3 separate regions of the Homo sapiens genome follow, and all the other regions are linked to region 1. The links come from fine-mapping of genetic effects on gene expression. A gene starts in region 1. Each other region holds a variant in brackets. All regions are shown on one strand. Distances are from middle to middle. Region 1 holds the start of EXOC2 (exocyst complex component 2). Region 2 overlaps EXOC2 (exocyst complex component 2). Region 3 overlaps EXOC2 (exocyst complex component 2).

Region 1 (10,317 bases):
CATGCTAGATTCCACATCACTTTTTTGTTCCAGGATGTACTTCCCTAAAAAGTGTGCAATTCAGCACATAGATATTTGAGGCTGGGTGTGGTGGCTCATGCCATGGGAGGACTGCTGGAGCACAGGAGTTCGGGACTAGCCTGGGCAGCACAGCGAGATCCCATTTCTACAAAAAACAGCAACAAAAATTACGCAGGCATGGTGGCACGCATCTGTAGTCCTAGTTACTCTGGAGGCTGAGGAGGAGCATCCCTTAAGCCCAGTAGTTCAAGGCTACAGTGAGCTAGGATCTCACAATTGCAACCCAGCCTGGGTGACAGAGTGAGACCCTGTCTCTAATAACAAATATATATATCTTTGAATTGTAATAAGTATAGGTTGTTTTAGTCTGTGATAATAACAACCTTGACTGGATTCCCCCAGAAGCTGATCCAGGGCTAGCATTTCACTTGGGAGGTGACAGCAGGAAAGAGCAGGAGGGGAGTGGGGAGGCCAGTAAAGGTGTGCTATGGGGCACTTCCCCGAGGGAGACTGGAGCAGCTCCCTGGGACTCTGCCATGCAATGGGGCACGTGCAACCAGCCAAGCTACCCCCGCCAGGGCATTTACACACCAACTCTTTGCCTGCCATTGGCCGAGGCCTTCTTCTGAATTAACTCTCTAGGGCTTCCAGCTTGCTCTGCTCCAAAAAGAAATCCCTCAAGCACAAAGAGAGATGCAGGTGTTCCCAGAAAGCAGCCTTCAGTTGGGGGAATCTGGATGGGCACTGATGGCCTCTGTTACCATCCTGCCTGGTATGGCGGATCCACGGCTACAGATCTCTGTCCTGGCCCTGATTCCTCATGATGGTGTCCAGTCATACTTTACTGGGGGAAAAAACCCACCTCAGGAGGGTCAATAGGTTGGGCTATAATGCCCACTGCTGCAGTTAGTTCTAAGGCTACAGTGATTTTCATCATCTTCTTCCTTAATCACCCGGCTCCGTTCTCTTCACCTGCAGCTAGCACTTCTGTGGCCCAGGCTGCTTCCTCAACGAGGTGACCCAGACCTTCTTCCCTGTGAGGTCTGAGCCCTTGGTTATCATTCCTTGTCAGGCCAGGGTTGCTGCATTGCCAGTTTACTGGTATCACCAGCCAAGGAAAAGATGCCCAGTGAGTCCCCTGCATTCCAGAAATAATCCTCCCTCCCGTTTCCTACTCATAACCAGGACCAAATTTTGTTGCCTGGGATCCATGAGGATCCCAAGTAAGGAGAGGCTTTTAGATTTAGTGAACCCTGTGTCACCCAGGAGAGCATCTTCGGCACATCCCAGGGGCCAGGACCCTGGCTACTGGGGATGCTGCACCATACACTGATATTAGGCTCTGAATATATACTGCATCCCACAGCACAGCTTCCAACTCTGCTGGAGCGTTCGCTGTGCCTTTGTGGGGCCATGCTGATGTCCTATCAGGGTGGCAGTCTGGGGTGTGCGATCTATGGTGGAACCAGTGGAGCTTGCGGTCACGTCCCCTCTGTCTGCCTCTTTCGCTCTTACAAGGGTGCTTGGTCCAAGGTGGTATTATGGGAAATCCTGTGATAAGGCAAGACATTCTGTAAGCAATTGGGTAGTCATGCCTGGAAGGCTCTACAAGCAAGGAAGACAAACCCAAACCCAAACCCAGAATATGCATCTGGGCCTATGGAAATCAACTTGCCACCGAGAGACGGCAGCCACCATACCATGGGCTGCCCATTGGCCTCTACGGCTGGAGAGGGCAGAGGCACTGTCTAGATCTGCCTTTTTCTGTGGGTCCCTGTAGCCTCCAACCCTGTGAATGGCCATTCCATTCACAGGCCCATTGTGCAGAGACTGCCTGACCTGCCCTAGCTGAATCATCCCATTTGCTCTGTGCTCTGCTGCGGATGCTGTCTGCCGGGCAGGCATTTGTGTAAGACACATAGATGGGCCAAATACTGTTTGTGTGAGGAGCATGTGTGAGTTCTTGAGCTGAGAGGCTGTGATATCCACAGCATGGTTATGCAGCTGCTTCCTGGCCACCCTCCTCTCCATCCAGCTCTTATGTTTCTCCAGCAGGTCTCCTACCTTTGGGAATTTCTGCACCAAAAGCAGGCACATACTCTTGGTCACATATAGTCCTGAGGGCAGCCCAACTCCGCCAAGAACTCCACACTGATGCTCAGCTCCACTCTGACAGCAGCAAGCACAGGCTCGTGGGTGCCTCGAGCCAACAGGTACTAACCCAGATTAAAACAGCTGAGTGAATTCCTCATAAGCTCCAAAAGGCATCTAACCCAGATTAAAACAGCTGAGTGAATTCCTCATAAGCTCCAAGAGGCGTCTAACCCAGATTAAAACAGCTGAGTGAATTCCTCATAAGCTTCAAGAGGTGTCTTACCCAATTGCTGGGGGCTTTCTTTTCTTCCTTTTCTTTTTTTTTGACAGCGTCTCACTCCGTAGCCTAGGCTGGAGTGCAGTGGCACAATCTCGGCTCACTGCAACCTCCGCCTCCAGGGTTCAAGTGATTCTCCTGTCTCAGCCTCCCAAGTAGCTGGGACTACAGGCACGTGCAACCACGCCCGGCTAATTTTTTGTATTTTTAGTAGAGACGGCGTTTCACCATGTTAGCCAGGATGGTCTCAACCTCCTGGCCTCATGATCCACCCGCCTTGGCCTCCCAAAGTGCTGGGATTACAAGCATGAGCCACCGCGCCCGGCCAGGGGGCTTTCTCTATAGTGCGGGGAGACTTTAGGGTGACCATATAGCGTCTAAAAGGAACACTTTTGACAGTAAAAAGGGCACTCAATAATTAAGCCTTCATAACAGACACAAATCAGTCATCCCACGCAAAGTGGAACATGTGGTCACCTTAGTTATCTGCCTTCTTTGCCAGTTCAAGTGGCCAATTCCAGGATAACCAGAAAAACCCATCTAAATATCCTGTCACACCAGCTTAAACCCCATGATCCTGTCTGATGTTATTTCTCTGCATAGAACCCGAACTCCTCTGTTCCCTGCTCCATCTTCTGTGTCAAACTCCAATCTCAGCTACAACTAATTTTCTAACTCCCTGCCTGCACTAGAGCAGCCAAAACAACACAAGCAGGCCGACTGGTTCCATTTGAGACTTAAGACCACACATCCCAAGTGGGCATTCTGCCCTGCCTGGCAATCTGGCTACATATCCTTAACAATTCGCCTTACAATGTCTAAGTTAACAATCTCACCCCTTCTCAGTCCTCCCTCGTCCCCACCCCCTGCTCACAGATGATCTTGTTGGTTCCTTTGTTAACACAGAAGCAACCAGAAGAGTATTTTCTCACTTTCTCCTCACCATGTCTACCAACCCACAGCTATAGCTTCACATTCCGCTCACTCTCCTACTACACAGCTCAACTCTGGTGGCTCCTAAGAACAACCTCTGCCCTCGTGCAACAGGTCCTACCCTCTCTTACCTTTCTCAAAGACTTGCTCTGCAGTTGCTCCCTCTCTCCTGCATCAGCGGTTCCCTCTTTACATGTTTTGTTAATAGCTCCCATCTTAAAACAGACTTTTTCCTTGATACCATGCCTCTCTAGCAACTACCGCCCATCTCTGCTCCCTTTGTCACACAACTCCTCAGAGGGGTTGTCAAAGTAGCCAGATGAAAATACAGAACATCCAGTTAAATGTGAATTTCAGATAGTAACAATTTAGTATACGTATGTCCCGTGCAATATTGGGGCCGTACTTTTACTAACAAATACTAAAACTGTGTCTGGAATTGGTAAGTTCTTGGTCTCACTGACTTCAAGAATGAAGCCGCGGACCCTTGCGGTATGTGTTACAGTTCCTAAAGGCGGCGTATCTGGAGTTTGCTCCTTCTGATGTTCAGATGTGTTCGGAGTTTCTTCCTTCTGGTAGGGTCGTGATCTCGCTGGTTCAGGAGTGAAGCTAGAGACCTTCGCGGCGAGAGTTACAGCTCATAGAGGCAGTGTGGACCCAAAGTATAAACAGCAGCCAGATTTACCCCAAAGAGCAAAAAAATAAAACTTCCACAGTGTGGAAAGAAACCGGAGCAAACTACCACTGCCAGCTCGGGCAGGCTGCGTTTATTCTCTTATCTGGCCCCCACCCACATCCTGCTGATGATTGGTCCATTTTACAGAGAGCCGATTGGTCCATTTTACAGAGAGCTGATCGGTCCATTTTGACAGGGTGCTGATTGGTGCGTTTACAATCCCTGAGCTGGACACAAAAGTTCTCCACCTCCCCACGAGATTAGCTAGACACAGATTTTGGACACAAAGGTTCTCCAAGTCCCCACCAGAGTAGCTAGATACAGAGTGTCGATTGGTGCATTCACAAACCCTGAGCTAGACACAGGGTGCGGACTGGTGTGTTTACAAACCTTGAGCTAGATACAGTGTGCCGATTGGTGTATTTATAATCCCTGGGCTAGACATAAAGGTTCTCCAAGTCCCCACCAGACTCAGGAACCCAGCTGGCTTCACCCAGTGGATCCCGACCGGGGCCGCAGGTGGAGCCGCCTGCCAGTCCCGAGCCATGCGCCCACACTCCTCAGCCCTTGGGTGGTCGATGGGACTGGGGGCCGTGAAGCAGGGGGCAGCGCTCGTCGGGGAGGCTCGGGCGCACGGAAGCCCATGGCGGGGGGGGTTGGCTCAGGCACTGCAGGCTGCAGGTCCCCAGCCCTGCCCCGCGGGAAGGCAGCTAAGGCCCGGGGAGAAATTGAGCACAGCAGCTGCTGGCCCAGGTGCTAAGCCCCTCACTGCCCAGGGCCGGCGGGTTGGCTGGCCGCTCCGAGTGCCGGCCCGCTGAGCCCACGCCCACCCAGAACTCGCGCTGGCCCGCAAGTGCCGCACGCAGCCCGGGTTCCCACCAGCGCCTCTCCCTCCACACCTCCCCACAAGCTGAGGGAGCCGGCTCCGGCCTTGGCCAGCCTAGAAAGGGGCTCCCACAGTGCAGCGGTGGGCTGAAGGGCTCCTCAAGCACAGCCAGAGTGGGTGCCAAGGCCGAGGAGGTGCCCAGAGCGAGCGAGGGCTGTGAGGGCTGCCAGCACGCTGTCACCTCTCAAAACAATGTTTTAGTAGAAGTATATCCCATGCAACATTAGTTTAGTGATAAATATATCTATACTACAAATTACTTGTTGTTTATCTGAAATTAAACTTTACTGGGTATTTGTATTTTTATTGCTAAATCTGCCAACCTAGGTTGTTGAAACTTACTTTTTTCCACTTCACTTAATATTCTTTTCACAGTCCACTCTGACGAGATGTAGCTTCCCCACACTCCTTTGAAACTGCTTTTGTCAAGGATGCCAATGACTGGCATATGCCAAACTCAATTGTCTCTGGAGTCTTGGCCTCACAGTACTTCTGAACATTGGCTATCAATTCCTCCTTCCTGAAACTATTTAGCTTCCAGAATCCGCTACCCCCACTTTCCTGATTGTCCTTCCTCCCTGGCCATAGCCCCTGAACCCGAGCTTCCCCCAACCTAGAGCATCCCCTGACCCTAAGTATCCCCCCAACCCTGAGAACCCCCTGACCCCGAGTATCCCCCGACCTCGAGAACTCCCCGACCCCGAGCATCCCCCCAACCCCCAGCATCCCACGACCCCGGGCATCTCCCCCGATCCTGCGCATCCCCTGACCTGGTATGGCGCCCTGACCCAGTGCAGCCCTCAAACCCCTGCAGCCCCCTGACCCCATGCATCCTCCTGACCTAGGGCTGCCCCTGACTCAATGTTGCCCCCGGACCCCAGTGCCTCCTCCTGACCTGAGGCACGCCCCCCAACCTGGTACAGTCCCCTGATTCCAGTGCATCCTTCTGACCCAGTGCTGCCTCCTAACCTGGTGCATCCTCCTTACCCAGTGTGGCCCCCTGGGGATGCACACTCCAGTGCATCCTCCTGACCTGATGCTTCCTCTGGTCTCGGTGCAGCCCCCCTGACCTGGTGCAGCCCTCTGATTCCATGCATTCTCTTGACCTTGTGCATCCCCCTGTTCCGGAGGGGTCCTCTGACCCGATGCAGGGCCCATCGTTGTGAACTGTGGCCCACAAACGCACTATCATCCCACAGTCTCCCTGAGATGACCCGAGGGCACGGGGATGGATGGTGCACCCGGCCTGCCCCTTGAGCTTGTATCCTTCTTTCCCTCCCTCACCGCTTCCCGCCACCGCAAAGACGCCCAGCAAAAACCTCCTACTCGTGTCCATTCAGGCAGCTGGGTCCCTCGGAACCCAAGGCATTCCAGCGTCCACCGCCCACGGCCCCTGCTGACCTCCAGCACCCGCGCCGGTCTCCTCCCCTCCTCTACCCTCCCCTGAAGGCTCCGCCCATCGAGGACTCGGCGCTCGACTGCCAGGCGGATCTACACGCTCGGCGCTCGCGGCGGGCGGAAGTGAGGTGCCGGCGGCTGGCGGCCGCGGAGTCTTCGGCGAGACCTACCGGGCCCTGTCTGTGCCGGCCGTGAGCTGCGGCAGGACGGCTGGAGGTATGTGTGGGAGGCTGGAGGGCCTGGCCGAAGGCCAGCGGGACATGGACGTCAGCTGCACGGAGGTGGCCGCCTGCGGCGTCCGTCCAGGCCTCAGCGGTGAAGGGACAGCCGCGCCCACTGGCGCCGTCGGTCACCTGCGGGGCCCCGCGACCCCCCGCGGTTCCCAGCCCCGCAGCCCCCATCCCCGCCGTCAGCCGCCTGCTGGGCTCCGCGCCCACCCCCGCCAGTTCGCACCCCCGCGGTCCCCACCTGCGCCGGTGAGGGGCGTGGGCTGCAGAGGGCTGACTCCAGGCCCCGCCCGCTGGAGCTGGCCCCAGACTGCGCCGCTTCGCCCTTGCGCAGTTGCCACTCCGTGAGATTTGAGAATTTCTCCGGAAAAGTGAACGCGAGGCGGGTGTTACCTGTCTGCCTAGGCGTGCATCCCGCTCTGGCTGTCCTGAGCGCTTAAAAGGCGCCTGCCGCTGTTGTCAGCGTTTGCGTGCACGTACTTGATCCTCGCGCGGGTGTATGTACGCTGCCGTGTGACCCATTTTACGGATAGGGGAGCGGCGGCTCAGAGTGCTTGAGCAAAGAGCCTGAGGTCCTGTTGTAGCTGCCATTGAGACCTTGCGCGCCGGCTCCAGGTCCGCACACCAGCAGCCTGGAAGCCTGGTGATGCGTAACCCTGTATCCCAAGATTGTTAAGAAAACACTTTAGTAATTCCGAGAAATAGTTCTTGAAAGAACTCGTCTTTGAATGGAAGTAAGTTATTTTTAATCTGCCAAAGGTCAACATACTAATAAGTCTGAGAAATTTTAAGTCTGATGCCTTTATGAATCTGTGAGTAAACTTACAAGGAACACTTAAAAAATATTTTTTCTAAGTTAGCCACACTTTAATTAAATCTTTTTGTGTGCACTATGCAATATTGAAAAGTTACTTCTGAGCTTATGTGGATCTGTCTTCTAATGCATAATAATGTTTTGTTTATGAATGTTAGTATGTACTGGCCCATGCTTTGTGTAACTGACTCCTTTAATGACAAATCAACTGAAAGCCAGAATCTTCTCAAAGATGATTTTTTTGTGCTAAAAGTTGGCGATTCCCAGAGTAGTAATAGAAAGAGGGTGATGTGTGCTTAGTACTTACATGTTCACTTGTTTGTCTAAGTAGAAACTTAATAAATTAAAGCAGAGAAGCAGAGTTCCCCCAGTGTGACTTGGACCAACTCTTGGAAGTTTTAGAAAGTGATCTTTTTTTCTTGTCAAGTATTTAATTTCCTGTATTGAATGCCATTTTGAACTACAGTTGACCCTTGAACAACACTGGGGTTAGGGGTGCCCACGCAGTCAAAAATTTCCATGTAACTTTTGACTTTCCCAGGACTTTACTAATAGCCTACTGTTGACCAGAAGCCTTACTGATACATAAACAGTTGACTTACATGTATTTTGTATGTTATACGTATTATATACTGTATTCTTAAAGTAAGCTGAGAGAGGAAAATGTTAAAATCACAACAAATGTATTTACTCTTCTTTAAATGAAAGTGGAGAATCATGAAGGTTATTATCCCCATAGTCTGCATGAGTAGATTGTGGAGGAGGAAGAAGAGGAGGGATTTTCTCAGGAATGGCAGAGATGGAAGAGATGGAGGAAGTGAAAGGGGAGTGGGAGATGCAGGCACACTCAGTGCAACTTTTGTTGAAAAAATCCGTGTATAAGTGGATCTGTCTCATTCAAACCCATGTTGCTTAAGGGTCAACTGTATTACTTTTCTAAAAGATGGTTATTAACTTGCTAAGTTCTTGGGAGCCCATTATGTAAGAATCATATGGGAAATGAAGTTGGTACTGAAAAAATAGTCTTCTAGCAAAGAACTTTTAATATTTCTAGTGTCAAGCAGCAGCAAGATTAGGCCATACAGGAAGTGCTGGTTACAGAGGTGTCCTCTCAGTTACTTTTCCACTCATTCTCCAGTTTACGCATCTTAATCCAGCCTGGGTTCCTAGTCCAGCGTCTGCCACATAGTAGGTGCTTAAATGTTTATTGAATGGATGAATTTTAGGTCACTGTTGAGAGGATTTTGAAACTGGGAAATAACATTCATTGATCACTCTGCTAAGCGGTGTACTAGGATGTTGATTGTACTCAGATCCTGGGGAATATGTTCTTGGACCTTCTGGACTGCCTGCTGAAATCACATGGTGATAGTGTGGACTTCTAATCATATGCTTTAGAGTATGTTTATATTAGTCAAAAATTATTATTGATATGAATACACAAACTTAAAAGTAATTGTAATGAAATTATGAATCTTTTTTGTATTTTTAAAGACAGAGTCTCACCCTGTTGCCTAGGCTGAAGTACAGTGGCGAGATCTCTGCTCAGTGCAAGCTCTGCCTCCCGGGTTCACGCCATTCTGCCGCCTCAGCCTCCCAAGTAGCTGGGACTACAGGCGCCCGTCACCACGCCCGACTAACTTTTTGTATTTTTAGTAGAGACGGGGTTTCACCGTCGCGATCCTCGTGACGGTGGACCTCGTGATCCACCCACCTCGGCCTCCCAGAGTGCTGGGATTACAGGCGTGAACCCCTGCGCCGGGCCGGGAAATTATGAATCTTAAAGCGATGGGTGACACACGCATCGGCATCCTTCAATCTCAGTTTGTTTATTGATTGAAAGGGGGTCTTGTTCTGTCACCCAGGCTAGAGTGCAGTGGCACAGTCACAACACACTGCAGCCTTGAGCGCCATGATTCCAGAAATCCTTCTACCTCAGCCTCCCAAGTAGCTGGGACTATAGGTGCGTGCCACCGGGTTCGGCTCATTTTAAAAATTATTTGTGGAGGTGAGGTCTTCCTACGTTGCCCAGGCTGGTCTTGAACTCCTGAATGCAAGTGATGCGCTGGCCTCAGCTTCCCAGTGCTGGGACTATAGGTGTGACCCACTGTGCCTGGCTGATCTCAATTTGAAAATCACAGAGTCAAAAGGTATTTTTGGCTTAGGCGTCAAAGCAACTATACACTGGTCCTTGGTCTAATCTGGTCTGCTTCATAGTACTGGCTGAGTTGCTTAGATGCTTTGGACTGTTTCCTTTTTTGTGTATTCAGAGAATACATGCAGTTAGATTATCTCTGAAATCCTTCCTGCCTTGAAATTTTCCAACTCAGTGAATCCTATAACCACCTAGCACTTGTCTTATAGCACTTGTGTTGTGTTAGGGACAATATTATTAATGGTGTTTACATACACCAGTAAAAGACTAAGCTCATTCTGGATCGGGATTAGTTTTAATTATTTTTGTATCTTCCAGTCTTACTGTATGCCTGACACATATATTAAAAATCAAATAATATTAGCCTGGATTCATAAGGGGTATTTTTGCCCTCTCAATTAAAGAATAGCTAAGAACTAAACTCTGTAGTATTGAGTGTAAGTCCAGCAGAAGCTCAGAGGTAGGAAGGATCCGTTGGGGCTAGAGTAATTGGGAAGCTTTGATGATAAGAGCTTGATGAAGGAAGGCGTGTGAACACCTGGGCTGCATACCAGGAGCAAAGGCCCAGGGGCTGGTAAGTGAGTGCATTTTGGATTATGGGTGGAGTGCCTTGACTGACAGGCAGAAGAGTTTGGAACTGATTTGTTAGACAGTTCTTTTTTGTTGTTTGTTTTTCCTGGAAAGTTTTATTAGGCCAGCTCAAAAGCTTCCTGAACATCCTTTACCTTAATTCCCTTGGTAGCATTTCAGATTAAAAATACATCATCCAGTTTGCTTTATTTTTGTTTTTGGGTTTATCAGTTTTTCTATGTAATATTTTCCACAGTAAATCTTGG
Region 2 (10,317 bases), 160 kb after region 1:
TCTATTTTAGTCTTGGCTAGAAGTATGATTTTAAATTTCCAAGCTAAGGGAGCAGAGGAGCAGTTGGAATTAGTTTTCTCTTTGTTAGAGATTTCTAACATCATTGTTCTGAGGTCAGAGAATATCATGTTTTTAGGTTTGCTGAGGCTTGCTTTGTAAGCTCATATGTGGACAGTTTTCTGAAACCCTACCTCGGTTGAAAAGATCGTGTCCTTACGTTTTGGATACCACATTCCACAGATGTCTATTACATCGGGTTTGTGGATTATGTTGTTCAGTCCTTTTGTTTGTTTGGTTTGGACTTTGATCTCTTGATTACTGAGAAAAATGTAGTAAGGTTTTTCCTTGGCTCCTTTTTAGATACTTTATTTGCCTCTTCTGTTCTGTATTTTTATTATGTGTCTTGGTATTATTATGTTTTTTGGCCTGTTTGTTCCCTTGGCTCTGGTTGATGTCTTTAATCAATTCTGGAAAGTTCTAAGCCATTATCTCTTCAAATATTTTTTCTTCTCCATTCAAACTTTTCTGTCCTTTAAGATCTCCTATTGGGTGTATGTTAGACCTTCTCACTCTATTCTTCACATCTCTTAATTTTTTTCTTTTTTATTCTCCTCATCTTTAATTGTCTGTACTGATTGGGGTAATCTCCTCAGCTCTCTCTTTTTGTTCCTTGTTTCTTCAGTTGTGTCTAATCTTGCTGAAATTTACTGTGTATTGAAATGTTATTTCAGTTGTGTTTCTTCTCCAGAAACTTTGTTTTTTGTTACTAAGTAAGGGGAAATTATTAACTTACTCTGGAATGGTATAATTCAGAAATCAGGGAAGGAGATAGTGGTAGCAGTAAAGTTCTTTCCAGTGTCTTTCCGATTATTCTGTATAGATAGAAAATCAAATCGTCAAGGATAAGATTATCCTATTGAGAACAGTGGAGCAAACAATTGAAGCCTAATATATAGGATGTGAGGTGACTAACTTGATTATTAAAAATTCCTGGCTGGGTGTGGTGGCTCCTGCCTGTAATCCCTGCACTCTGGGAGGCTGAGGTGGGTGGATCACCTAAGGTGAGGAGTTCAAGACGAGCCTGGCCAACATGGTGAAACCCCATCTCTACTAAAAATAAAAAAATTAGCTGGGCATGGTGTGCGCATGTGTGGCTTGGAAGCCCTCGCTAACAAGTCCTGGAGACACAGGCTGTCCTTCTGTTTCAGGTGACAGTATATCCTGTTTCATCTGTAGTTTTCTTTTTTGTGTTAATACTTCTCCTAGGAATTAAGAGGTTTTTTAAAATTAGTTATTTACTTGGCATTTATTTTGCCCCCATTTGACAAGTTGTGGTTCAGTAATATAAAGGAATGTCAGTTTGCCACCTGTCCTGCCATCCATTTGAAAAGAGCTAAAAAAAATTAATTTGTCTGAACCTAGTTATCCAGAGTCACTTGGATAGATGTTCTAATGATAGTTTGATGACCTTATTTCTATACAGATGGCCAAATTGGAATGAAAATAATTGTTTGTTGTTTATTTTCTTTCTTGGAAGCATAATTTTTAAAAAACATTATTATCAAAAAGTTTTTAAAATCACAAATTGGAAATTTTAAATTGGAAACATTAAAATACATCAAAATAATGATGTTATCTTTTAAACCATTGTGACTGTGTTGAAGACAACAGTAAAGAAGTTAGAGAAATTTGACAATCGACTTAGGCATCTCTTCTCCAGGACTGTCCATTGGGAGCACTGGCTGGCATCAGTGCCTGGTGCGTGAGATGGAAATGTTGTTGAGTGTACGTGATTGCTGCTAAGAAAGGCAGGGCGGTGGCTTATTGGGAGCACTGGCTGGCATCAGTGCCGGTGCGTGAGATGGAAATGTTGTTGAGTATATACATGATTGCTGCTAAGGTGGCAGGGCGCTGGCTTATTGGGAGTATTGTCCATTACACCAGAATTCTGCCTCCAGCATACGCCTTTTACTTCTGTAAGTTATTACCCACAGTTTTTTAATGCTTCGAAAGACCCTCCTCAGTGCTAATATGTACGAATTCAGTGAGTAAGTCTATTTCTGAATACAGATATTCCTGAACTTATGATGGGGCTACCTCCAGATAAACCCTTCCAAAATTGAAAATATCGTAAGCGCATTTTCTACTTATGATATTTTCTTTTTTTTTTTTTTCTTCAGACAGAGTCTTGCTCTGTCACCCAGGCTGTAGTGCAGTGGTGTGATCTTGGCTCACTGCAACCTCCGCCTCCCGGGTTCAAGCAATTCCTGCCTCAACCTCCCTAGTAGCTGGGATTACAGGCACCTGTCACCACAGCCGGCTAATTTTCGTATTTTTAGTAGAGACAGGGTTTCACCATCTTGGCCAGGCTGGTCTTGAACTCCTGACCCCGTGATCCACCCGCCTCAGCCTCCCAGCGTGCTAGGATTATAGGCGTGAGCCACTGTGCCCGGCCAGATATTTTCTACTTACAGTGGGTTTAACCTGACGTAGCACATCATAAGCCAGGGAACATACTGAATGCGCATTGCTTTTACACCCTGGTAAAGTGGGAAAATCATGAGTTGAACTCTCATAAGTTGGGACTGTCTGTACACAATTAAATTGTTATCTTTTTTAAAGGAGGCACTGTGTTTTTGTTAGAGACACCTGCCCTAAAAGGCCACTGGACCCTCAGGCATGTCTACTCTGCTGCCTTTCTCACCCCCATCAGTGACCCTTTAGCGCTCCGTCTCTGTTTAACCACTGCATTCCTTAAACACATCACTTTATAAGACTGATTTCCTTAGTGTCAGGATGTTTTTAAAGTTAATCTTTCTTCCTCACTCTCAGATAGCGATTAATGGTAGATGGATCTGACCCTTGCTTTTTGAGCAGGAATCAAGCAGACCCAGTTTTCTATGTTCAGCAGCCAGTGTGAACAGGGTGTTAGTGAAAATGAGGCTGTTGAGTTAATAGAAATAGCTGCTAGCATTTATTATGTATTTGCTTTCAGTGTGCTATGCAAGTTTCCTGAATTATCTGTTTAAATCCTTACAACAAAAAGTATGAGCTGTGTACTCCTGACATTGATCCTGCCTCATCACACATTAATACTGCCATTCTACTCTCTTTTTGTAGCATTTGCCTATTAACTGTTTGCACATCTATTTATTTTCAACTCCTCTTTTCCCTTCTTTTTTTAAAAAATGAGGTGTAATTTACCTACAGTAAAAGACACAAATCTTAAGCTTATGGATTGATGGCTTTTTACATATGCACACGTTCCAGCATCCACCACCAGATGAAAATACAAAACCTTCCCTTGTGCCCTGTTTGAGTAGGCTCCCTTCTCAGCAACGTTCCAGCTGCTATCTGCAGAGAATCATTTTGCCTGTCCCAGAACTTTACGTGGAGTTCCATGCAGTTTGTTGTCTTTTGTATCTGGCTTCTTTTGCTCCAAATTAATTTTTTGAGATTCATCCAGTTGTGTGTACCAGTGAGTCATTTTCTTTTATTGCTGAGTTTGGATAACCAGATTTTGTTTAATCATTCTCATGGTGATGGACATGGGGTTGTCTCCAGTTTTAGGCCTTTATGGATAAAGTTGTGGTGAATATTCCTGTAAGTCTCTTTGTGGATGTTTGTACTCACTGATCTTGGATATAAACCTTGAAGTACAATAGCTGGTCGTGGCACAAGCTGATTAGGAACTCTGAGTAGTTTTCCAGAGTGTACACTCCATCGGTCATCAACTCGAGTGTACGCTCCGTCGGTCATCATCTTGAGTGTACGCTCCGTCGGCCATCAACTCGAGTGTACGCTCCGTCGGCCGTCACCTCATGTGTACGCTCCGTCGGTCATGAACTCGAGTGTACGCTCCGTCGGCCATCAACTCGAGTGTGCGCTCCGTCGGCCGTCAACTCGAGTGTACGCTCCGTCGGCCGTCATCTCGTGTGTGCGCTCCGTCGGCTGTCAACTCGAGTGTACGCTCCGTCGGCCGTCATCTCGTGTGTGCCCTCCGTCGGCCGTCATCTCGTGTGTGCGCTCCGTCGGTCGTCATCTCGAGTGTACGCTCCGTCGGTCGTCAACTCAAGTGTACGCTCCGTCGGTCATAAACTCGGTTATAAACTGCATCCTAGCCAACACTTAATATTACCAATCTTGTTTATTTCAGCCAGTCTCATTGTTGCTTTATTTGGTTTTCCCTAACAATGATGTTAAGCACCTTTTCTTGTATATTCAGATACATTCAGGTAGCTTCTTTCTTGAAGTGCTGTTTAACCCCAGCTCATTTTTAAATTGGATCAGTCATCTTTCTATTGACGATTTTTAGAAGGCTCTAAATAAGTCCTTTGTCATGCATACATATTTTTTCAGTTCATGGCTTGCTGTTTTGTTTTTATAATATCTTTTGAACAGAATTGTTTAATTTTGATGAGATCCATTGTATCAAGCTTTTAAAATGTTTAATGCCTTTCATATGTTGTCAGAATCTTTACCTGCTTCAATGTCCTGAATATTTTTTCCCAGAAGTTTTGTAATGTTAACTTTTATGTTTAGGTCTATGATGTCTATCCTTATGCCAATATTGCATTGTTTTATTTATTATAGGTTTATAGTCAGTCTTGATATCAAGTAGTATGAGTCTTCCAACTTTGTTCTTTTTAAATTGTTTGGGCTATTTTAGGTCCTTTCCATTTATATATAAATTTTAGCCTGTGAATTTTTACCAAGAAAAGGCCTTTTAGGGGTTCATTGAATTTGGAGAAAATTACCAATATTGATGATCCTATTTATTTGTTTAGGCCATCTTTAATTTCTTTCAGCAGTGTTTTGTAGTTTCCATTAGAGATTTTCCATGTCTTTTGTTAAGTTTATTCCTAGGTATTTTATTTTTTATGGTATTGTATTATAATCCTTCGATGTCTATTATATAGAAATATAATTGATTTTTGTTATTGACTCTGCTGCCTCCATAAATTTACTTATTCCATTAGTATGTCAACCTGCTTAGAATTTCTAAATACGTAATGATGTCTTCTGTTAATAAAAACAGTTTTACTTCTTCTTTTTTGGTATTATTTCTTGCCAGATCTCATGGACTAGGACCTCTGGTATAATCTTGAAATAGTGGTGAAAGGGGACAACTTTGCCTTATTCCTGATCTTCTGGAGAAAGCACTCTATATTTGTACCATTTTGTAGATGCCCTTTACACAGCTGATTTTCTTTCTAGTCTTAGTTTACTGAGAATTTTTGTCATGAAAGTATATTGAATTTTCTCAAGTGCTTTTTCATCTGTTGAAAAAATACCACTTCTGCATGATATGTTTTTAAAATTTATTTATAGTTTCTATTTGCCAATAGTTTGTTTGGGTTTTTATGTCTTTGTTCATGAAGGCTATTGGCGTGTGATTTTTTTCTTA[C/T]AATATCTTGCTCAGTTTGGATATTAGGGTTATACTGGCTTCATTAAACAAAATAGGAAATGCTTTCAGCCTCTATTCTATGAAAATGTTTGTGTGTGCTATAATTTCTTCCTTACATGCTTGGTAGAGTCACAAATGAAACCACCTGGACCTGAAGTTCTCATTGTCAAGTCCTTGTCTATAATGGATTCAATTAGTTTAATAAATATAGGACTACTTGTGCCAGTTTTTGAAGGTTGTGTTTTTCAGCAGATTAGCAATTTCCTCTATGTTGTCAAGACTTGATGGCATAAAACTGTAATGTCCTTTTACTATCCTTTTAATGTCTTCAGGATCTATAGGAATGTTTCTTTTTTCATTTCTGTTCTTGGCAATATGTGGGTTTTTTTCTTTATTTCTTCATCAGTCTTGCCCAGGAGCTTATCGTTTCTGTTGTTATTCCTTTTTAATTTTTAAAAAATTTCAAATTTTTTAAGAGACAGGGTCTTGCTCTGTTACCTAGATTGGAGTACGGTAGTTGAATCATACCACGCTGCAGCCTCGATCTCCTGGGCTAAAGTCATTCTCTCACCATAGCCCCCAAGTAGCTGGGACCACAGATGCGCACCACCATGCCTGGCTAATCATTTTTATTATTATTTCCAAAGATCCTACTTTTGGCATTGGTGGTTTTCTTTAATATTTACCTTTTTAAGATATTGATTTCTGTTCTTTATCTTTTCCTTCTATTTTCTTTGGGTTTAATTTTCTCTTTTTCTAGATACTTGGGGCAGAAAATTAGAGCAGTGATTTAAGTTTTTCTCCTTTTAAACTTTTCTTTTAAAACATTTTCAGCTATAAATTTCTAGCCACTGGTTCTCTCTTGCAGATTTTGATATGTTATCTCTTCATTGTGTGTTATTAGTATTTCCCTTTTGGATGCCTCCTTCCTTTGAAGAAATCTTACTTCACACTTGTATTTCACATGTCCAGGGAGTCTCTAATCATCTATTTCGGTTTGTGTTTATAGATACTAGAGAAAGAGAGAGATAAAGAAGGGCGAGAGGGAACTCAGAGTTATTGCCTGTCACTGTTTTCCTCAGTAGTTCATCTTCTTCGTTCTGATGTGTTTGATTTTAGGTTAGAGCCCTTTCTCATTACATGGGTGAAATACTCCTTGAACCCTTGCATATCCAAAAATATCTTTCTCGGACTCTGTTAAGAGAATGACACGCTGGCTAAATACAGGATTCTTGGGTTCTGTTCTTTCATTCCTGTAGATTTTAATCCAGTGATTTCAGCTCCCAGTACTGCATGTGAGAAATCTGACGTCAGACCAGTTCTTTCTTCTTTGTAAGTAAATTATTGTTTTGATCTAGAAGCTTGAAAGTCAGTCTGTCTCTGTCTCTCTCTCTCTCTCTCTCTCTGTCTCTCTCTCATTTAGAGTAAATGTATTAGAAACTAGAAACTTTAACAGTAGTTGCCTAGATATGTGGGCTGTCTTACCAGTCTAGCCTGGCACTCTGCAAGCCTACTCAAGTTGCAAACTTGGGTCTTTCTTTAGATCCAGTTAAATTTTCTCCTACTGCTTGTTTAATGAATACCTTTTCTCTATCTGCTTGTATTTCTTTACTTGAATTTCTATTTTTTGCATGTTAGAGCTCCTGGGTTTATCTTCTAGTCTTGTTGTTCATAGTTTTCATGTCTTTACACTTTTACTCTATGTTTTGAAGTAGTTCTTGCACTTCAGATCAGTCTCAACAGTGACCAGGAGTTCCTTGTGTTAATCTACTCATTTGTTAGCTTTGGAAGTTGTATGTTTCACCTCTGGAAATCTTGTTTTGTATTATACTTTAATCGTCATGAGGGTTTTCTTTCTTTTTTCTGTTCAAGTTGTTGCTTGTCTCTTCTGCAGCTGAGTTTCACTGCTTGGTGGATGTGCCTGTGCATAGCAGCGGACTCCCTTAGACGTGTGTTTATTTTTCACTGTAGTTCGTTGCAGCTCAGGCCTGGCATTGGAGAGAAGCCTATCCCTCTCAGGCCAGTGCTGCAGAAGCAGAACGGCCACCAGCCCCCTGCAGGGTGACCTGGGCCCACAGACTCTCCACACCCCAGACTTCCCATATCCTCCATGCTTGGGTCTCTGCCTCCCCCCTCTTCTTCTTCTGGCCTCCTGCCTGCTGGTGAGACAAGGCACACTCACGTAGGGCTGATGCCAGCCTCCTTACCCTCTTCTGCTCCCACTCCCATCGGGAGCCCCCACAGTCCATGCAGCTGAACTGTGCCAAGGACAGGACTTACTGATAGGGGTCTTTCCTGTTCCTTTTTGCCCATGACAGCGAGCGTGTGTCTGGCCTCCCTGTGGAGTTGCCTTAGACTCGAAGGCCTGACCTGCACGCCCCTCAAGCAGAGCTGTAACTGGAGGGAGAATCCAGGGGAGCCACACTGGGGTTACTGGAGTGTCAGAGCAGGCTTATTTTCTATTGGTCACACTTTTCAAATGAATTAGTTAATATGAAGAAACAGAACATGATTTTAAATGGTTCCTTTTTAATTGTAGTTTACTGGCTATTACAATTTAGTATTTATAATGCCTCTTGCTCTGTGTACAGAAATGAGTGGTTAGTATTTTCAAAAATGAATGATATGGTTAGGCTTTCTGTCCCTACCCAAATCTCCTCTTGATTTGTAATCCCCATAATCCCCACGTGTCAAGGGAGAGACCAGGTGGAGGTCATTGAATCGTAGTGGCCGTTTCCCCCATGCTCTTCTCATGATAGTAAGTTCTAATGGGATCTAATGGTTTTATAAGGGGCTCTCTTCCCCTTCCACTGGGTACTTCTCCTTCTGGCCACCTTCTCCTTCTTCTTGTGAAGAAGATGCCTTGCTTCCCCTTTGCCTTCCACCAAGACTGTAAGTTTCCTGAGGGCTCCCCAGCCATGCATAACATAATTGAGTCAATTAAACTTCTTTCTTTTATAAATTACCTAATCTTGGGCAGTTCTTTATAGCAGTATGAGAACGGACTAATACAATGACCTGTAGTCCATATATGGAGATTATTTTTTCTCCTGCAAAATAGCTATGCTAAAAGAGATCTTTGTTACTGAAAATATATAAAAGTCACGAGTTTTTGTAGGAAAATTGAGAAGTGCTTTTATTATAGTCTGAAGTATTTATTGTTAACATTATTTTACTTTTTCCATCACCCTCAAATAGGCAACTCATACTCTTCATTATGTGTTTATAGGTTAGCATGGCCTCATTGAAAGAACTAGATCAAAGACTCTTTGAAAATTACATCGAGTTGAAAGCAGATCCCATCGTTGGCTCCTTAGAACCTGGAATTTATGCAGGATATTTTGATTGGAAGGACTGCCTGCCTCCAACAGGTAAGTAATAAAGTTTCTTGAGTAATAGATGTGGATATACTTTTATCAATTGATACTTGCTTGAATTCTTTTCATTTTATTCTCATTTTTCTCATATCTACTGAGAGTGAGAGATTAATTTGATTTTAACTTTTTGTTTGCTTAAACCCATTTCTTGGATAGTTTGGAAATTGGACACTTTGTATTATTAGTGGCTTAAAGCTGTTCTTAAATTCTAGAGAATAATTAATGATAACTTGTAATAATTGATCGTTTTAGTAATGCATTCCTGCTTCCTGTGATCTTCTCACATAGATACAATAGAGTGATTGTGAGTGACAGTGGCATGCAATGACCTTGTGTACATCATCAAAAAATGTATTAAAGAAATCTGGTCACTTCTATGTAAGACCTGATTAGTGATGCTGTAAAGGCGAAGGATAGGAGAAAAGTGTGTAGGAGTAAGATTATTATAGTAATTTAGCAAAGAGAATTGAGCCACAGAAGGATGAATGACACAGTTCAAGTATTATCTTTGTGATTTCAAATGAAAGTCACTTGAATCACTTCAAAATATATATTTTTAAAATAACTATTGCTTTCTGAATCAAGTAAACTTTTGATTGATCAAATAGTTGTTTCTTTGTATGAAATAACGTGGAATACCTAAAACCAAGCTGCCTGTTGGCACTTTTGTAGAGAAGTAGTTTATGTAGAAGTGGTCATGCTGGTATCGGACACGGGTTCTTCATGGGTGTACATATGCAGATATAACAAAGCACCAGTGAGTTGTTAACAGGTTTGGTAACTTCATTGTTTTAACCAATCACTTTAACCTCCTTTTGTTTTTATTGTATGGCACTTATACTAAACGATGATAAAATTGTTTACTGTTTAAACACCTTTGGTTTTTATTGTATAGTGTTCACGTATAGTGATGCCAAAAGTGTAAACTAAAAACTGGGATCATTAAATTAGCCACAGTTACTTAATGTGACCACAGTTATTGAATTTCCTGAGCTCACAGTCATGGCAGTCATGCCAGCCCTTATTCCTCATGTGCTTTTCTGTGCACACACTTTTCTGTGCACACACTTTCTGTGCCCAAACCACATTCAGTTCATACCCTCAAAGTACATCCTTTTAAAGTTTAAGGCAGGTTCTATCAGTATCTTACTTAAAATTCTTACAACATCTTCTCATGATAGTAAAACCGGGGAAGCTGTGCTGTGCCCACCTCTGCCCTGGCACTCTGCCCACTGCCCCAATGCTCCACCTCACAGCCCCTCTCCAGCTGGACTCAACCTCTGCCTTTTTGAAAAGCTCATCCTTCTAAAATATAAATTGGATCCTGTCAATCCCCTGCTGAAAAACCTTCGAGGAGGCTCATTCTCCCTGAGGCTAACCCCAGACTTCTCAGACAAGGTAGCATCCCCACAGGTACCAGATTCCACGGATGCTCAAGTTCCCAGTGTGAAATGGTGTCATATTCGCATGTAACCTATGCACATCCTCCTGTATGCTTTAAATCATTTCTAGATTACTTATAACACCTAATAC
Region 3 (10,317 bases), 75 kb after region 1:
TCCTAACTCTGTGCTAGTGGATTTAAAATGCAGGCTTGGTTTGAAGTACTCAGAGCGTATGTTGCTTTTTCTGATGTGTCTGAGCCGGGACTTCACTTGGAAATGTAGAATCCGAAATCCAGTTATTCTGAACAAACGTAAGAGTTTTTACTCCGTGCTTCATTAGCTGTGTTGATATACTACCTCTTCCTTTCCTGTTACTGTTATTAAGGGCATTAGCAATTCTCTTCATTTGAAAGCAGCTCCCCTTTCGCACTCTCCTGCATTGTCATCTTTACGGATTTGTAGTTGTGATCGTATTTCCCACCTAAAACCCTCTGGTTCTCTGTTTGACAGTAGAAGTACCAGGTTCAAATCTCGACTGTTTACATATAACCTCTCAGAGGCCATTTCCTCATCTGGAACATGGAAATATTTAACTCAGTTATTGTCATGGGAATCAAATAATACTTAGGAAATTAGTCTGTAAGATATAAATAAGTATAAATAATAAAAATAATAGCAAATAACATTTTTGAGCATTTATCATGTGTCAGAAACTGCTAGGCTTCCACAAGCATTATCTACTCTGATCTTCAAAACATTCCTAAGAGGAAGGTATGGTGATCCATTCATAATGGAATAACTTCTCGAGATTATACAGGTGGATTGAGCAAACATCGAGATTGAACCCAGAGCCTGTGCTCTTAGCCACTGCTTATTACTGCTGCTTCCCGTTGGGAATACTGAGATGAGCCACCTGTACTTTTGCAGCTGTGTTACCCATGGAGCTTCATGGACTCTGGCATTGGTATTCATTTTTTGTTTTTTCTAACTCATTTATTTCACATTTTTGAGGTGTTTGCATAAAAGATCAGTATATTTAGGCATATATTTTGCAATAGAATATGGAATCAGGATGCCTTCACCTGCAATTAAGATTGATTTAAACAAAAATAAAATCTACTTTTTCATAATATACAATATTCATTGATGGCAGACTCCAAAGGTTGGTTGAGTCAGTCATGTCACCAAGATGTGAGGAGCCTGGGTTTGCTGGCTGTTCTGTTGCCCTTAGCATAAAACACATTTCCTTAGCAATTGTGGTTGAAACTGGACATAATGATGTTCTCAGGCAGAAAGATGGTGTCTCTTCTTGGTTTCCCTTCTTGAAAGTATGGAGACCTTTCCCAGATGTGCTCCAACAGACCTTCCTCCGACATCACTGTTCAAAAACAAGTTTATCCAATCAAGAGCAGGGGGAATATGACAAGCGCGGTTGGCTTATGGTGGTTGATCTCTCCCCAGTTAAGGGGCAATTGGGGGGCTGTGTTTCAGCAGAGAGGGTCCAGGGTGATTGGTGGGTCATAGCCAACAGTGTCCACTAGAAACAGGCTCTGTGTGTCCGGGCAAGGTTAGTCCTGGCCTTAATGGTGTGATTTGGGGAAGATTATTTGACATCTGTGTTAGAATTTCACCATCTTGAAAATAATGTCTGTCTTGTTCTTGTAAGGCTGATTTCTGCTATAAGTCTCAATACATGTCTTCCAATTAAGATCAGTGAAAGAGTTTTAATGTCTTCAGTAAGAACTCTCAGAATAATCAGCTCCGTCTTAGGGGAGGTGGTATTTTGACCAAGAGATGTAGTGCTTTTCAAATTGTACCTGGCCCAGTTCAGGGGCCTGAAGGAACGACGCATCCGGGTAGGGGTGCTGGCGGGTGGGTGGGGCTCGAATCTCAGAATCCAGCTCCAGGGGCTTGGGCCTCCCTGCTCACTCCAATGCAGAAGCCAAGTCTCAGGCTCTGCCACCCGTGTCCTCCCAGCGGCCTGTGGTGCACGGGATGTTCATGGCTGAAGAGCTGGGAGTGCAGGGCCAGTGGGGACCTCACCAGACCCACTGCTTTCTGGCCAGGGGCCCCACTGCTAGGGACTGGCTAGACCCATCCCTGCTCCTTCTGAGGATGAGGGAGGGAGGGACTCCTGGGGGTAGGAGAGTTTCTTAAAATCTTAACAGTCCCTCTCCTGGAGCCCTCCACTAGACATCAGGCCTTTATGTTATGATATAACTGAGAGCAGTTTAGATTTGTAAAAATAACAATTTAGTAATGCATTGTAAGTGAGATGTTACCAGAGTTTAAGTATCAGGGGAATTTTAAAAATGGAGTACAGAATGGAAAGCTCTGAGCTGCTGGTTTACATTGTTCAGTACCATCAGTACCACCAATTTAAGCATTGTAACTGTTTAGGACAGAGCCTTTTCTGTATGTGCTGTGTACATTCTGTTTTTTAAAACATTTTTTATTTTGGCTAAACACGTGGAGTATGACGTAGCTGCCAGACCCATGGGGACTGTGTGTTCTTAGCCGTTTCTCCAGGGCATGCAGCTGCTGTATTTTTGAGTTTTGTGTCTGCATTTTATACTTTCTTGCGTTACTTGCTACCATTGTGTCACAGATCCTTTCTTCACATCATCAGCTCTTAACGCTAGCAACTGCCGTTCATTCCCTGTTCGATTATGGGCAGAGAAACACCGAGGCACAGCGCAGCACCATGGGCGTGGGGGAGGGGCACAGAAGCTGTTTGACTTCTCAGCCTTCTTTCGTTTCTTTTTTCTCAGCTGTGTCCTTAGGTTACTTGGACTTGATCCCTGCTGGATGAGGATGTCTTGTACTTAAATCAGGTGTGAAGACTGTTGTTAGTAGGAACTTAGTTGATACCAGTAGCGCATTTTGATTCTGTTCAGACCATTTAACTCTCTGACCAAGTGAAGTGTGAGACACCACATTGAATGGCCGTGTCTAGAAGGAAGGTCGACAGAAACATGGTCTGCAGCCACCATGACTTCTGCCCGCGATGACACGCCTTACTAATTGGTCATGTCATTCTTTCTAGCTGAGTTGAGACAAAGCCCGTGATCCCTCACACAGTGCTCCAGGCAGATGCTGCCTGCCGGTTAGAGCAGGACTGCAGAAGGAGGCACTTCTGGGTCACTTAGCCGGGGTTCAGCATGTCACAGCTTAGCCTAAGCCTCCACTCAGTCTCTATATTCCCCCAAAGCTCTAACTTGGAGGCATGGGGTGCAGATAAATAAAGTGAGAAAAACTTCCAAAGGTGAAAGGATTTTCTTACTAAGTAAAGTATGAGAACCAGCATGAAGAATCCAAACCAAAATAAACTTCTAAAAACTCAAAGTTCTCCACCTCCCTCCCAGAGACTGCTGACCGGTGAAAAGGACCAGCAAGTAATGAATGCCACATGCATGTATCGGGAGGATTCAGACTATAAATCTTTTAACTCGTGAAGCTAGTGAGAAAAGATGCACGATCGACTCAGTCTCGGTGGAAGTGGTGCCACCTCCCAAAATCTCATCTGTCTTCTTTTCTGTTATCATCATTCTAAGCAAGGCATCCCCCACCCAGTCAAAAAAGGAACATAGTGAAGAAGGACAGTGTTACCGAATGTGAATGGGACGCCCTGTCCTGGCTGAGATGCTCACGCAGTAGGCATTAGACTTTGGAGTGAGTGGCGTCTCGCTGTGCAGGGTTGATAGAGGAACTCCTCGAGATCTGGTTTTGCAGCTCACATTCCCTGTTCTTCTAGGGACCACAGAGGGAGAGGATGTGTAGAGAGGCAAGGAGGGTTTGTGCAGAGATATCTGTGGGGAGAGCTGGGGTAGGCCATGAAGTGGGAGGATGCAGAGCATGTGACCGTCTTCACTGAGGCCTGGTGAGTGGGACCTCCAGGTGACAGTGTTCCCTGCAGCTGTGAGACACAGAGCCTGCATGGACAGTAGAGGTGGCTGCATTTTAGGGGTGTTCTCCATGTCCAGGTGTGCAAGCACCTTGCTAGAGAGAGTGGGCTCCAGGCCATTGGAAGTTGTGCCTATGGGCACTGGTCACCTGAACGTGGAGGGGCTCCAGCAGGGAGTGTCTGCGGTAAGACTGAGACCACTGGAGGCTGAGGAGTGGCAATAGGAAGCAGATGCATCCATGAGTCATGGCTGGAGGAGTCCTCCAGAGCCCTTTAGGGAACCCGTGAAAATGCCCCCAAGACTCAAGTAGGTTCGAATACCTGGCAGGCAGAGAGCACAGACCACCTATGGCAGTACCAGGCACAGGCCCCGAAGGACATTCCATTCTTGTCTCTCTGTCCATCCCACCCTTAACCTCTACGAGAGAGCTGCCATTTTTCCCCCAAACGAGTAAGCAGCCTATTAACTATTGACCTTGGCTGGGAAGAGGGAAGAAAAAAATGTTACCTTTGGGTGAAGTTGGAGTGTGGATCACGAACTAAGCTGCCTAATTTCTGAATTGAGGCTGTGTTTGTAATGAGGAGACAGCAAGACTCTCCCAGAGAATACCAAAGTCATCGGACCTACCCACATTAAAATTCTTTTGGGGTAGGAGTGTTTTCCCCACTGCGTAACTGTTAAAGAGATACTACCCTATCAAATGATCTGTGTCTGGTTTATACCTTATGAGTTGGGCTTGTCCAGTGTTTTGGGGTAGGGGACACATCTTAGAGGGGGCGGCAAATCAGACGAACAAAGTAAACCCCAAGATGGTGGAGACCAACATGCGAGACAGTATAGTCCCTTTGAGGCTGCCGAAGCGTCAGGTTTCATGCCTAGAGTGGCAGAAATGAGCCCTGAGGGACAAGCAGATTCAGTTCATAGACATGCTTGGATTTCATCCTGCAAATGGGGCAGGGGGCGCCAGCAAAGGCTGCCACGTTGTGAGCCTCGGTGGGTACATCTGGCATCCCAGCATGGAACCTGATCTATTGTCGATACTTGATTAATAGTCGAACGAATATATAAATGAATTGATCCAGAAGTCAGTCTTAAACATGTAGGCAAGATGAGGGAGCAGCAGATTATGTATATACCCTGTTGTTATCACAAGCTTTTCTTAAAGTCATTCTAGACATGGACGCAAATGTGAGTGCTTTGTGATTAGATGTGGTTTTATTAGTACTTTGATGATTTCTTAGTATGTCTTAAAACAACTTTCATCTAGGTTTTAACAAAAATCATTTTAACAAAGTGATTTAATATTTTAGAATTTCACTGTATTCAAATTTTGATTTTTATACATTGAATGGGGATTGATGTCATATTTTGATAGGTTTAATAAAACTGTCAACTCAGCCAGATGTCTTAATCCTCTTTAAACCTTATATTCTTTTATTGATGTAATTTCTGTATTTCAACTAGTTTCCTATCTTTTCTATATAAAATCAAAGTTTAAGTGATAGAAAAATCAGCCATGATGTGGGAAATATATTTTGTACATATATACAAACATGTTCTGGGTAATGTATGATTAATATGTATTGTTGTAATGGTTAGTATTCATATGTGTTATACTGGATACTTAGTGATACCTTTTCCATTTTTGTCATAATAACCATTGAAATATATTTTAAACGTTTTTTCCCCTCAGAAGTAAATTTTCGCAGAAGGACTTAGAAATGCTATTCCATGGAATGAGTGCTGATTTTACAAGTGAGAATTTCTCAGCAGCCTGGTATCTTATAGAGAATCACTCAAACACCAGGTTAGTGGATATGGGACTGTCAACTGTGAAGGGTTTCACTCAGATGCTAAAGATGGAATTACACGGTAACTCGAGTTTTAGGTCTGGCTCTGCATACAGTTACATGGTTTTAGGTCTGCGAGCTCTTTGACTTTGC[G/A]TTTACCCGTGAACATCTCAGGGTGTCTGTTTCCCTGTTTGTGCAATGGGATGATTCTTTAGAGGTCTCTCATTTCCTACTGTCATTTTATGTTCAATATATTTCATTATTGATGCAGGTTATTAAAAATTTATGGAGCCTTAGCTGGGGACTTAAACTGACATGTATGAATGTGATCTCTCCCTACTCAAATAACATAAAAATTTTAAGTTCTGGGGTAAAACATGGAACACACTGCCTTCTCTGACCATAGGGCAAAGGAAGATGAGTTGGTTTATCATCATGTAAGGACCTGGCTTAAAATTAGCAAAAAAGTAGACAAGGTCATATATCCAATTTGAAGGTTCCCTTCTGTCTTCTAATTACATTTTACTCTGTACAAGAGCAAGTTTGTAGCTTATTTGCAAGATTGATTTAAAATAATTATATTCAGCAAAAAATGTTTGGATAAATCAATGGTTTATTGCTTAAAACTTAAATTATTGATAAATTAGTGTGTTAAAATATACCTTAATATAAATGTTTCATTCATTTATTAGGGTGAAAAGCATTACTAGAAAACATCAGGAAAAGTTGGCATTTTAATACACAGGATAAATTTAACCTGATTGCTTTTTAAAGCAAATGTCCAAGATGAGGAAAGGTTGGCATTTTAATACATAGGGTAAATTTAACCTGATTGCTTTTTAAAGCAAATGTCCAAGATGAATTTTTTCATTGTAGAAGATGATTCTGATTTTACATTACAGATGTAGAATTTCTATTATTATAAGTCAGAATTGAGCTCTGTTTCTTGTGTAGGTCTATCAAGAATACGTTTAAAGTTTTATAGCCGGATTTTCTTAGCTCAAATGGACATAAAACTTCTGAAATACAGAGGCCTGTCTTTAGTTTTCTCTGCTTTAGATATTGAGATGAGATATTGTGGTCTTCCTAGTTATTTAAGTTGTGAATCGACCCACAGGATTCATGTAATTTTATGACTAAGGACAGAGGACTGGATACTGATAAGTATAACATTATGCTTAGTGTTCCACAATGCTTCAGTGAATGTACAAAGCAGTTCCATCTTTGAAATGTTGTCTATCACTGGATGATCTGTGTCTTCTTACCTAGTACAGGATGTTCAAAACTCTTTATCTGGTAAATTGTATATATTATATATAGGTTATAAAAACATCTACACATTTACTTCTTAGGGGTCTAATGTATTTGGAATTACCATCGAGGGCTCCGAAAGTCTTGTAGCTGTTGTAATTTAGGCATTCATAATAAATAAAAGGTTTAGATCTACGCAACAATTTGAAAGCTTTTTGATTTCATCTGGCTTCGTATGATATTAATCTGTGTGCTACTTAGCATCGGTTTTAGCATATTTAGTGTTCTCCACTGAAGGAATTATTTTTTCTTTCTTGCATGTTAGAAGTGTCAAACTTTGGTTTCTTTATTTCATTTCAGTTTTGAGCAGCTCAAAATGGCAGTCACCAACCTAAAGAGACAGGCTAACAAGAAGAGTGAGGGCAGCCTGGCCTATGTGAAAGGCGGTCTCAGTACATTCTTCGAAGCACAGGATGCCCTCTCAGGTAAGGCGATCCTCAGAGCCATCTGCTGGCAGCTTCCGCCATGGAAACCCGGCACTGCCTGCAGGGTGTTTACAGGGTGTGACACTCGGTCTGTTTTTATCAAAGTAGAGATCTCAAATGTGCTATAAATATTTGTTGCAGAGTAGGCTGGCATCTCTTTGAAGACTTGGTACTTTAAAAATTTATCTCTGAGGCTTTTGTTAACCCATCTTACATGTGTGAAATGGGAGACTACTTTAACTCTCTGTGATGTCCACACTCCAGGGCTGATACGAAATTAAATCCCAATGCACAACCACCAATATCTTACATATGTGACTAATTCTATAAATGCAACCCATTGTGTGTTCACTTTGGAAAGGCTGATGATAGGATACCAGTCTCTTCAGCCCTTATCGCACAGGCGCCCACGTATGCACGCAGGTAGCTGTCACTGTGCCATCTGTGTATGGGAGGGACGTTGTATGGAGTACAGATGTCATAGCTTTAGACATTTTAATGCAAGATGTTGGTAGAGTTTTTTTTTTATAAAACTGCTTTTAATTAATGAAAGTTTAATTATTGCTATTTAGTAAAAAGTAATCTATATCAATAAAAGTTAACTCAATTCTTTTTAATAGCTAAGATACTTAAAACTAAATACCCATATAGCTTAAGTATCCATAACTCTAACCATGCATTGAGGCCACATCTTCTTCAATTCAGGAAGGTAAATTTTAAAAATTATTTTTATTCCTAAAGTATAGACATTCTTTTATTATTTTAAAAGTCCCCCTCCTCCCTCTCTACTAAAAATACAAAAAATTAGCCAGGCGTAGTGCATACCTGTAGTCCTAGCTCCTTGGGAGGCTGAGGCTGGAGAATTGCTTGAGCGTGGGAGGCGGAGGTTGCAGTGAGCCGAGATCGCGCCACTGCACTCCAGCCTGGTGACAGAGCGAGACCCCATCTCTAAATAAATTAAATAAATAAATAAATAAATAAGCCCCCCTCTTCCTGTGCCATATATACTTAATTGACCTCCAACACATTAAATGTGTATGTGATGCAGTGTATGTGATGCAGCTTCTTCCTTGCAGGTAGAAGTTAGTTTTTTTTTTTTTTTTTTTTTGAGACGGAGTTTCGCTCTGTCGCCCAGGCGGGAGTGCTGTGGCGCGATCTCAGCTCACTGCAAGCTCCGCCTCCCGGGTTCACGCCATTCTCCTGCCTCAGCCTCCCGAGGAGCTGGGACTACAGGCGCCCGCCACTGCGCCCGGCTAATTTTTTGTATTTTTAGTAGAGACGGGGTTTCACCGTGTTAGCCAGGATGGTCTCGATCTCCTGACCTCGTGATCCGCCCGCCTCGGCCTCCCAAAGTGCTGGGATTACAGGCGTGAGCCACCGCGCCCGGCAGAAGTTAGGTTTTTGAAGGGGTAAAATGTGAATGTCTAAGAGGGAACAGAGAAGGTAGGTGCTCTTCCTGATAAATATGTGTGCCTTATGTTTCTTGATGGTGTGCCATTCTTTATTTGTGCTTATTGCTCTTCTCTCTAAATTACCACTGACAGCACATAGAGCAACACAGAGAGATCCACTATTGTCAGTGGACTATGTAGACTAGGAATTACATGGTTCAAATTTGACAGAGCTGATATGTAAAGTTGCTCGGGTAAGTTGTTTTTACTTTTCTGTTATGAAAATTTTGAAATGTGAAAAGTGGAGATGAAAGTATAATCTCCCAAGTAAGGGCAAGGACATTTATGTGCATAATCACAATGATATTATCATAGTTAACCAAATTGGCAATAATTGTTTAATATCATCTCATTCCCAGTTCAGATTTCTCAAATTATCCCCAAACTTTATTTTTATAGGTGATATGTCCAAATCAAGATTCAAATAAAATTCAGGCATTTCACTTAATTTTTAAATCTCTTAAGCCTCTTTTAAACTAAAACCATCCCCTCACCTTTCTTACCCTGTTTCTGGTTTTTCTTTTTTTTTTTTTTTCTTTTGAGATGGAGTCTCACTCTGTTGCCCAGGCTGGAGTGCGGTGGTGCGATTTCAGCTTACTGCAACCTCTGCCTCCTGGGTTCACATGATTCTCCTGCCTCAGCCTCCCAAGTAGCTGGGATTACAGGTGCCCACCACCACGCCCAGCTAATTTCCACGCCCAGCCTGTTTCTGGTTTTTCATGCTATTGATTTGTTGAAGAAACAAGGTCATTTGTCCTGGAAGATATCCCCCACTCTGAATTTGACTGATGACTTCCTTGTGGTGTCATTTAACTTATTTTTCTTGCCATTAAATTGCTTGGACTCATCTAATTGGATATTAGATAAGATTCACTTTCAACACTTTTAGGCATGGATAGTGCTGTGCTTCCTGTTTCATCACACCAGGCAGGAGTGCATTCGTGTCTGGGGTCTCCTGAACAGACACTGCAGTGGATCAGTAGCTTCAAGGGGGGACTGGGAACGAACAGGTGAGACAGATAGATAAATATGTATGTATACACATACATACACACACACACACACACACACACACACCCACACCCACATATACTTTTCAAACCTCTACTGTCTCTGCTTTATTTTGGTTTGTTTTCCCTGAAATTCTCTATTAAGATTTTCATGTTTTATTAGCATTGCATTCTAATTTTTAAATCATTTAAAATTCATGTTATAGGCCCTTTCGTTATCTGTTTAGTATTTGTATGTTCTGTGTGATTTTTTTAACATTGATTCTTCAGAGATATCTTTTTTGTGTTTTTAAAATGTGTATTGTAATTTTCCTCCTTAGTAGTTTTTAGTAAATTTTTGTTTTCATAGTCTCTGTTCTCATAGTATTGTGAACAGAGAATATGTTTCTTAATATATATTTAAGTTTTTGTAAGTATGCCAAAAATTAAAAAGGACGGACGGATGTGGTTTCTTCAGGGTCCACTATTTGATATAGTATCAATGCCTGATTGATTATATTATTTAAATATAGCTTATTTATATTAAACATGACAGACAAATCTCTTTCTTTAATTTGGATTCTGTCGGCTTTTCTTCATATGTAAAGCATGTATTTACT

What was found.
Region 2: its variant is fine-mapped to the expression of EXOC2 in whole blood (GTEx, PIP above 0.99).
Region 3: its variant is fine-mapped to the expression of EXOC2 in whole blood (INTERVAL, PIP 0.92).

The regions. Positions count from the first base shown.
Region 1 is chr6:689,203-699,519 of GRCh38, reverse strand. EXOC2 (exocyst complex component 2) reads left to right here and starts at 6,381. Exons shown (of 28, transcript NM_018303.6): 1 at 6,381-6,501. RefSeq lists enhancers at 4,230-4,738, 6,168-7,054 and silencers at 6,622-6,681, 6,692-6,761.
Region 2 is chr6:530,930-541,246 of GRCh38, reverse strand. It overlaps EXOC2 (exocyst complex component 2), which reads left to right. Exons shown (of 28, transcript NM_018303.6): 23 at 8,637-8,778. Among named protein-coding and RNA genes, the nearest start is that of HUS1B, 120 kb to the left of the region's middle. The variant C/T (reference allele first, on the strand shown) is at 5,408.
Region 3 is chr6:614,651-624,967 of GRCh38, reverse strand. It overlaps EXOC2 (exocyst complex component 2), which reads left to right. Exons shown (of 28, transcript NM_018303.6): 5 at 5,425-5,538; 6 at 7,133-7,257. Among named protein-coding and RNA genes, the nearest start is that of HUS1B, 37 kb to the left of the region's middle. The variant G/A (reference allele first, on the strand shown) is at 5,675.